Homo sapiens: one gene and its partner. The protein of the gene in region 2 interacts with the protein of the main gene of each other region in a pairwise test. Each region holds a gene or a part of one and is shown on either strand. Other genes may lie near its edges. The genes, in order: WDR4 and ZNF84.

Evidence for each region.
Region 1: the proteins of ZNF84 (region 2) and WDR4 interact in a two-hybrid assay, tested with the Homo sapiens proteins (one large-scale study listed by BioGRID and IntAct).

The regions. Positions count from the first base shown.
Region 1 is NC_000021.9:42,858,733-42,862,539, reverse strand, and holds part of WDR4 (tRNA (guanine-N(7)-)-methyltransferase non-catalytic subunit WDR4), read left to right. Parts: intron 1-145; coding exon 146-258; intron 259-2,817; coding exon 2,818-2,878; intron 2,879-3,807. UniProt on the Homo sapiens protein: Non-catalytic component of the METTL1-WDR4 methyltransferase complex required for the formation of N(7)-methylguanine in a subset of RNA species, such as tRNAs, mRNAs and microRNAs (miRNAs).
Region 2 is NC_000012.12:133,035,892-133,040,314, forward strand, and holds the start of ZNF84 (zinc finger protein 84), read left to right. Parts: upstream 1-1,617; 5' UTR 1,618-1,654; exon of another isoform or gene 1,655-3,121; intron 3,122-4,423. UniProt on the Homo sapiens protein: May be involved in transcriptional regulation.

The DNA of each region.
Region 1 (3,807 bases), on a different chromosome or scaffold from region 2:
GAGGGGAGGAGCCACGCTGGTCTGTCCTCGAAGGCCTCATCCTCTTGGCGGCCAGGCTGCAGCTTCCCTGCCTTCTTCCATGAGGGACTTGATTCGGGAAGACTCAGGTGAGCGGCTTTTTCTTTTCTGGCCCCTGGTGATGCAGGCTGTGAGTCCTGATGACCGCTTCATCCTCACTGCCGACCGGGACGAGAAGATCCGAGTCAGCTGGGCCGCGGCGCCCCATAGCATCGAGTCCTTCTGCTTGGGGCACACAGAGTGAGTGCCCCTTCCTGCCCCTCCAGCAGAAAGAAGGTCTGTTTGAAAACAGCGTCAGCTTGCGGCTCAGCAGGTGCCGTTGTAGCTGGCGAGGCCCCACGCGGGTGACAGCAGCCCCCGTGCTTGGTGTTTGGTCACTGCAGGCGCCGTGGTGCTGCCTGCAGAAGCCCTGAAAGGGTGGGGTTCACTCTGCGCTGTTACCCGGAGTCTGTGCCAGTAACTTGGCATTGGGCCTGACCGAACAGGAAGGGCTTGTTTCCGGGAAACCCCTGTCTCAGTGTGGAGACCCCTGCACCATGCCCGGGAGTTGTTCGCTGGTGGGTGGTGGGGGTGTTGGGGGCGAGGATGAACTTTAGTGATTTCAGCTGTCCAAGAATTAAGCGGCCTCTGCAGCCAGGTGGCGGCGTCTCTCGTGGCAGCACACTCTGCCAGGACCCATGTGGAGGTGTTTCTGAATGCCCGCTCCTGTCTCACACAAAAAGCTCATTAGAATTTACACAAAGGAAAAACGCTTAGTGTAATTGGCTGAAATGTTTTAAAATATATTATTTGAGGCAGTGGAAGAAATTGGAGGGAGGAAATTCAGTGCCGAGGTTGCCTGTGTTTTCCTGGTTTTGATCCAAACATTTCCTGTTTAAGAAGGCCAGTCACTGGTGTGTGCCTCAGGATAGCTTCTTCTGACTTGCATTTAGTTCGCTAGTGATCCAGCTCTGGAGTTCTCTGGCCTGCAGCCCCCCGGCCCCTCCCCTTCACCATCTCTCGCTGGGGTCTCTGCAGCTCCCTTGCCTCGCCAGGCACGTGAGGGAGGTTTCTGCTGACGGGAACACGCTTCTCACCCTTCTAGGGAAATGCTTCATCACTTAGAAGTATTGAGTAAAAACATAGTATTAAAATTAACTTCAACTGCTCCCTCCCTCCCTCCCTTCCTTCCCCCCTCCCCACCCCACCCTTCCCCTCCCTTCCTTTCTTTTCTCTTTCTTAGCTGTGTCGCCCAGGCTGGAGTGCAGTGGCGTGATCTTGGCTCACTGCAACCTCTGCCTTCCAGGTTCAAGCGATTCTCCTGCCTCAGCCTCCCAAGTAGCTGGGACTACAGGCCCCTGCCACCACGCCCGGCTAATTTTTTTTTGTATTTTTAGTAGAGACGAGGGTTCACTATGTTGGCCAGGCTGGTCTTGATCTCCTGACCTCATGATTCGCCCGCCTCGGCCTCCCACAGTGCTGGGATTACAGGCGTGAGCCACCGTGCCCGGCCTGCCCGTTTACTTTTCAACATAGTGGCTGGCAAATTGAAAACAAAGCCCCGTGGCCCCTGTGTGTGGCTGGAGGTGTGTTTCTGCTGGATGTGCTGTTCTGTGCCCTTTGCTGACATTGCAGTATCAGTTGGTTCACTGGCCGTCTCCCGCTGCGTCTGAGTGGTTCTGTGGGTCTGTTGGGCCTGTTGGTGTGTGCAGCCCTCAGCGTGGTGCCTGGCATGAGTAGGTGCTCAGTAGATAACTGCAGTGATTGGACGAATTATGTTTTGAGATTTTGTTTCAGACCCCTGGAAACTGGTTTCCCGGCCTTTCAAACCGTTGAGAACTGTGAGGCCACTCGTGCCCTCTGCACGGGGCGTCCTGTGCCCTATCTGTCCTGGGCTGTGGGCTGCTGTTGGTGCTGTGGTGCCGTGCAGGGCGGTGGCTGCGGGACCGGGCCCGGCTCACGCGATGGCTAGCCCAAGGTAGCAGAGGCCATGACTGGTGGAGATGGAGTGAGGCTCACGGGCCACCCCATTCCAGGGTCCCCGGGAACCCCGTGCATGAGGGATTGCTTGAGGCCACTGTGTTAGAGTGGGAAGAAAAGGGGCCTTGTCACCCTTGTAGGTGCCCGAGCCAAGATGGGTTTCCAGGCGAGCTGGGCTGCTTGGGTTATTCTTCATGGCTGTTCTGATGGGAGGGTCCCTGTGACTTTGAGTCCTGTGCTTGCAGGCCAACCCCTCACAGGAGGACTGGGCCGGGCTCAGCAGAGACAGCTGTCTGGCCAGGTCACTCAGAGTTGTTGCTGAGGGGCCGTCAGGACCCTGATAGGAACCTGTGGGCTTGGCTGCCCTCCTCCCTCCACCCTCCTCCCTGTGTGCTGTGTCTTTGAGTCTCCCCCGTGTCTTTGAGTCTCCCCCAAGGCTCCTTTCATCACAGTGCAGGTGCCTTGGGCCAGGGTGGGTGCTGGGGGGCCTGTAGAGGTGCCGCTGAGCAGAGCTGCTGCAGAGGGGGCTGCAGAGGGGCACAGAGGCGCTTGGGTCTCTGGCAGGCATGGCTGAGGAGCGGCCTGGGTTAGAGGTTGCTGTGCTGTTGGGGACCCAGGAATGACCTCACTCACCTCCCCGACTGCGTCCAGGGGCCTCCACCTGGTTAACCCTAACCAGGTTAGGGTTAACAGCTACTTCCCATGTTGGCTGTTTTTATTGGATCAGGGGGTTTAGGGCAGAGGCTTCTCTTCCTTAGATGAACAGGCGGCCTCCCCAGGCCTCCCGGTCCCTGCGGGCGCTGGGCTCGCTGACTCTGCCGCTCTCTCTCGCCCTCACAGGTTTGTGAGCCGTATCTCCGTGGTGCCAACTCAGCCCGGGCTGCTTCTGTCCTCCTCTGGGGTAAGTGTTCTGCCCAGCGTCACTCACCTCTGGATTCTTGAGCCTGCAGGGAGGGTGGGGTGGGCGCCTCCTGGACCTGGCCCCTGTGGATCGCTGGCCCCTGGCTGGCTGTGGCTGTCCACTAGATCTTAGAGCTGCCTGCGGCTCGCTCCCCGCCTGCGGCCGCTCACTCAGGACTGCGTGTGGGGTGTGCGTAGGTGCGTGTGTGTTCGCCTGTGGGATGAACTAGCACGGGTGTGTGGAAGGCTCCCTTCTGAGGGCGGCTGCTGCATCTACGATGGTATCGGGGATCAGGATCTCAGGTAGAAACAGTAGACGGGGGCTTCTCTGACTCTTGGAGGGGTCTCAGTCCATCCCATTACGGGCTGCATTTTTTTTCCTTTTCTTTCCTTTTTTTCTTTCTTTCTTTTTTTTTAAGATGGGGTGTTGCTACATTTTTCAGGCTGGTTTCAAACTCCTGGGCTCAAGCGATCTGCCTCCTTGGCCTCCCAAGTAGCTGGGACCACAGGCTCGAGCGCCCGCACCCGGGTTACCACAGTGCATTTTTGCTTGTTGGGTACAGCTTCTGTGTCCCAGCAATTGGGTCCTGGAAGCCTTACAGTTTAGTGATGAGAGACGTGTTTTCTCTAAGGAATGTGTTAGAAGGATTGTTAGTGATTTTGCCAAAGTGAGGGCCTTGGATTCCTCACAGGGTCTGATTCTGTCCTCTTGCGGAATTGTTGCCCGCACACCACCACCTTCCTCTTCGCTGTCCTTCCCTGTGTTGTCTGTGTTGGTCCTTTGTGTGGTGTGGCAGGATGGCTGATGGACCTTCTGGCCGCTTCTATGTTTCTTCTCTGATTGGGCTTCATTCACAGCCTCCTGTTCCTGCTCTTCAAATTAACACACAGCCACGCGACCTGAGAGAAGAAGAAAAGTGTGGCCATAAT
Region 2 (4,423 bases):
TTTCCACTGCACTTTTCACACTAACTCTACCTTAATTTGCACATGGGACCCAAGAAGAGGCTTGAAGAGACAACTGCACATGGTCGGGGACTTTCCAGACTTCCTTTTTCCTTCACCATTCACCTGTGAATCCCAGAATCCACCCTCTAAACCTTTTTTCACAATAGTGCTGCCTTAAGGGCAGCACAGAGAGATAGATTTGAACTAAACTCCTGTCACTTTGTTGGTCAACTCGCAATTAAGCTTTTCTTTTCTCAAACGCCTGGTGCCATAGTATTGGCTTCTGTGCACATCGGGCAATGAGGTCTTTTGCGTAGCAGTATTTGGATATCCGGTTTCCTCACGCTATTTATTGAAGCGACTGTCCTTTCCCCATCGTGTATTCTTGACACAAGATTAGTTGACTTGCCTAAGATTAGTTGACTGTATATGCATGGGGTTATTTCTGGTTTTTCTACGCTGTTCCACATTGGTCCATGCGTCTGTTTTTATGCTAGTACTTCACTGGTGAGTTCTACCTCTGGGAATAAATATAAGAATTCTCTAATCACTGGATGTTTGAAGCAATTCACTAAGCAACTCATTATGATGCTTTCTGGCAAAGGATCTCTGAATTTGTCTTCAAATTGTGGATAAAATTGGGTCAAATTTGGCCCATGTTGTCCTGGAGAATCATTTGTGTCACAAATTATCAAATTTATTAGTATAGAGCGGATTTTCATTCAATTTCCTATGTGTCTATGGTTATTTCTCTTTTTTCATCTCTCTCCTCCATCTCCCCGGCCCCATCTTGCTGTCATAAGCATCGTGACTTACCTATAATTCTCCCTACGACTCCAGTTATGGATCAACTTTACTTTTTTCTGTTAATTCTTACCTTCTTTCCATAAATATATTTAAATTTTTTCTGGTTTCCTCAACTGAAGTCAAACCAATTGAGTATTGGTGGGCCGGGCGCGGTGGCTCACGCCTGTAATCCTAGCACTTTGGGAGGCCAAGGCGGGCGGATTGCCTGAGCTCAGGAGTTCGCGACCAGCCTGGGCAACACGGTGACTCCCCGTCTCTACTAAAATACAAAAAAATTAGCCGGGCGTGGCGGCGGGCGCCTGTAGTCCCAGCTACTCGGGAGGCTGAGGCAGAAGAATGGCGTCAACCCGGGAGGCGGAGTTTGCAGTGAGCCGAGATCACGCCACTGCACTCCAGCCTGGGTGACAGAGCGAGACGCCGTCTCAAGAAAATATATATATATATTGGTGGATTCGGTTTCCCTTTATGTTTCTCAGAAAACCGTGTGAGCCCGTTTGGAGTCACTCCGTCTCCAAGCGACAGGCACTTCCGGACGCGGGGCACTGTGGGAAGTTGAGTTCGCGGGGCTCCTTCCTTCGCGCATGCGCACATGCACTCTTGGTAATGCTTGCAGGTGGCCCGTTCTTCCTCTTTGTCCTTCGCTGCCACGTGAGAGGGGAGTGTACGCGTGTGCGCGCGTGCGAGTGTGCGCGTGTGCAGTCCCCGACTCGTCCCGGCCCGTTCGGAGCCGCCCGGGAGCGCACAAAGGCCGACGGTTTGGGCGCGTGCGCGGGACACGGGGGACGGGCGGTGTCACGTGATCGCGAGGCCGCGGGCGCGCGGGCGCGACTCGGCGGCGGCGTCTTTTGTGAGTTCAGTGAGTTTATTGCGGGCCCGGCGCTGGGGGCTCCGGGAATGGCGGGGGAGGCGCGCGGGAGTGGCCGCGGGGAGCTTCGGCTTCAAGGCCCTGGGCGTCCGCGCGCGGATGCGGGTCTGGGGCGGGTTGGGGCTGGGCCGGGTCGTGAAGATGCCGTGGGCCGCGGAGCTGCGCGGATTCTGGGCTGTGGGGCGGGCACGGCCTTTCCGGAGGCGCCGCTCCTGGGCGTCCTTTCAGGCGGGCGTGGAGGCGCCAGCCTCGGGCGCGTTTAGCCTCGGGCGCGTTTAGCCTCGACCTCGGGCCAGCCCGCTTGCCGCGCCGTGGCCCTAAGGAGCGGCTGCCCTGCTGGACCGCATCCACCAGCAGCCTGGCTCTGCCGCTATCGAAGGAGGCTTTTAAAGCGCTGGGGTTACAGGTGTGAGCCACCATTCCTGGCCGTGTATTTTTTAATGGTTATATTTATTGACTGTTTTAAATTTTTTAAGTGACTTTTGCTTTTGGTATGGTGTAGCGAAATCTCCCCTCAAATTATACATATATTCATTCACCTGTGGTTTTTTTTTGTAGACATTCTTAGGGTTTCCATTATTTTAAAATTTAACCCACTGAAAGTAGTTGTATGAAATAGCTACGTTTATTTTCTTTCAAATATTCTTGTATTCATTAAATAATTTAATTTTACTGATGGCTTTGAAATGCTACATTTATTGCATGCTGACTCTTGCATATTTAGACAGTTTGCTTTTTTTCATCTGTATAACTTCTCTGGAGCCAGTGTCAAATGTTATAATGATTATAATTTGTATGTATTACAGTGGGCCTGTTCACACTCATTATTTTGTATTTCCAAAAGCATCCAGGCCCGGTGTGGTAGGGCATGCCTGTAGCCCCAGCTACTCTGTAGGTTGAGGTAGGAGGATCACTTGAGCCCAGGAGTTCAGGGCTGCAGTGAGCTATGGTTATGCCATTGCACTTCAGCCTGGACAACACAGTAAGACCCTGTCAAAAAAAAAAAAAAAGTGTCCGAATTGTTCTTGAACCTTTTTTCTTACACATAAACTTTAGAATTTTGAGATTCTGATTGGAGTCGATGAGTTATATAAATCATTTGAGGTCAAATTATCTTCACAATCTGAAGTCTTCCTATCCCAGAATAAAATCGAATTATAAATTTCTTTAATTCTATTTTTATAGTTCTCATTGGTGTTTTTAGTATGCTTCATATGGGTCTTGATATTCCTACATATTTTATGTATTTTGTCAATTATGAGTCGGATTTTATTTTTTTGTTATTTTATGTGAGTTGTTTATATCTTACAGAAATAAGGTTATTGACCTGGAAAGATGTTCTTCACATAATGGGAAAAAAACAAAAACAGCTTTTAAATATGACCATATGCTTCCATTGTATGAAAAATATCACAATAGTTTCCATCATCCTAAGAATGGTTACCTGTGGTGAGATCATAGATAATAGTTCTTATTTAGCTTGTGTATGTTTTTTATATTTTGCCATCATATATTACTTTTATAATAATAATTATAGCTAGTATATGTTTCGTATGACTGTGTGCCAGCTTTTGTTCTAAGATTTATGTATTATCACAATTTAAGGTATAAAGGAGTCATTTCTTGTATAACTGGGAGAAACTGCTGTGTGTTTCTGAGTTGGCACTGAAGTTTGAACCACAAAAAGGCATGAAAAAGAAAGTGCTGCTTGTTAGTGTGATACAGTTGAGGCAGGGCGTCCTTCATTTATATTTTTGTGGGAATTAGTGACTGAATGTGTGCATGGGAATAGGAGCTGACTCCAGGATTTATGTTGTGTGTGTTTGTGCATGTAGATATGCACAAATGACAATATGACTTTAGTATTCATGCTTTGAACATAGCAGGATAGAGAATTAACATTTGAATTTTGCTACTTACTAAATGTGCAATCACAGGCACATTTTACAATCACTCATTGTCCCAGTTTTCTCTCTGTAAAATGGAGATTATGTTAAACGCCTTATAGGGTTGTGCATGAGTTAAATTTAAAATGCTTAGTATATTGTCTCACATACAGAAAGCACTGGAATGTTAGCTGTAACTGTTATTACAAGGCCCCAGTCGCTTTCCTTTTAACACCTCATTTGTTTCTTAGACTCCCATTGTGAGGTCCACTTTATCTTCACCATTTTAGCAAGTACAGAAATTGAGGCTTTGAAGGCAAGAAAGGAGGGGGGAAAAACAGTAACCACAATAAACATTAAATGTATTCAATTTGTCAGTTAAAAGACACACTGTTGGTTTGGATTTTTTTTTTTTTTTTGAGATGGAGTTTCCCTTTTGTTGCACCAGGCTGGAGTACAATGGCACGGGCTGCAACATCCACCTCCCAGGTTCAAGCAACTCTTCTGCCTCAGCCTCCCAAGTAGCTGAGCTTACAGGTGCATGCCACCACGCCTGGTTTATTTTTGTATTTTTAGTAGAGATGGGGTTTCATCATGTTGGTCAGGCTGGTTGAACTCCTGACCTCAGGTGATCCATCTGCCTTGGCCTCCCAAAGTGCTGGAATTACAGGCGTAAGCCATCGCTCCTGGCCAATTTGGATTTTTTTTTTTTTAAACACCAATAAATTTGAGCTCTGAGCTGCTTATAAGGGACAAAGATAATGATGCTAAGATTTTTAGTGTAGTTGACCAGATGATAACATACCACGTAAATACCAAAAGAATGCTGAAGCCAGGTGTGGTGTTGTATGCCTATAATCCTAGC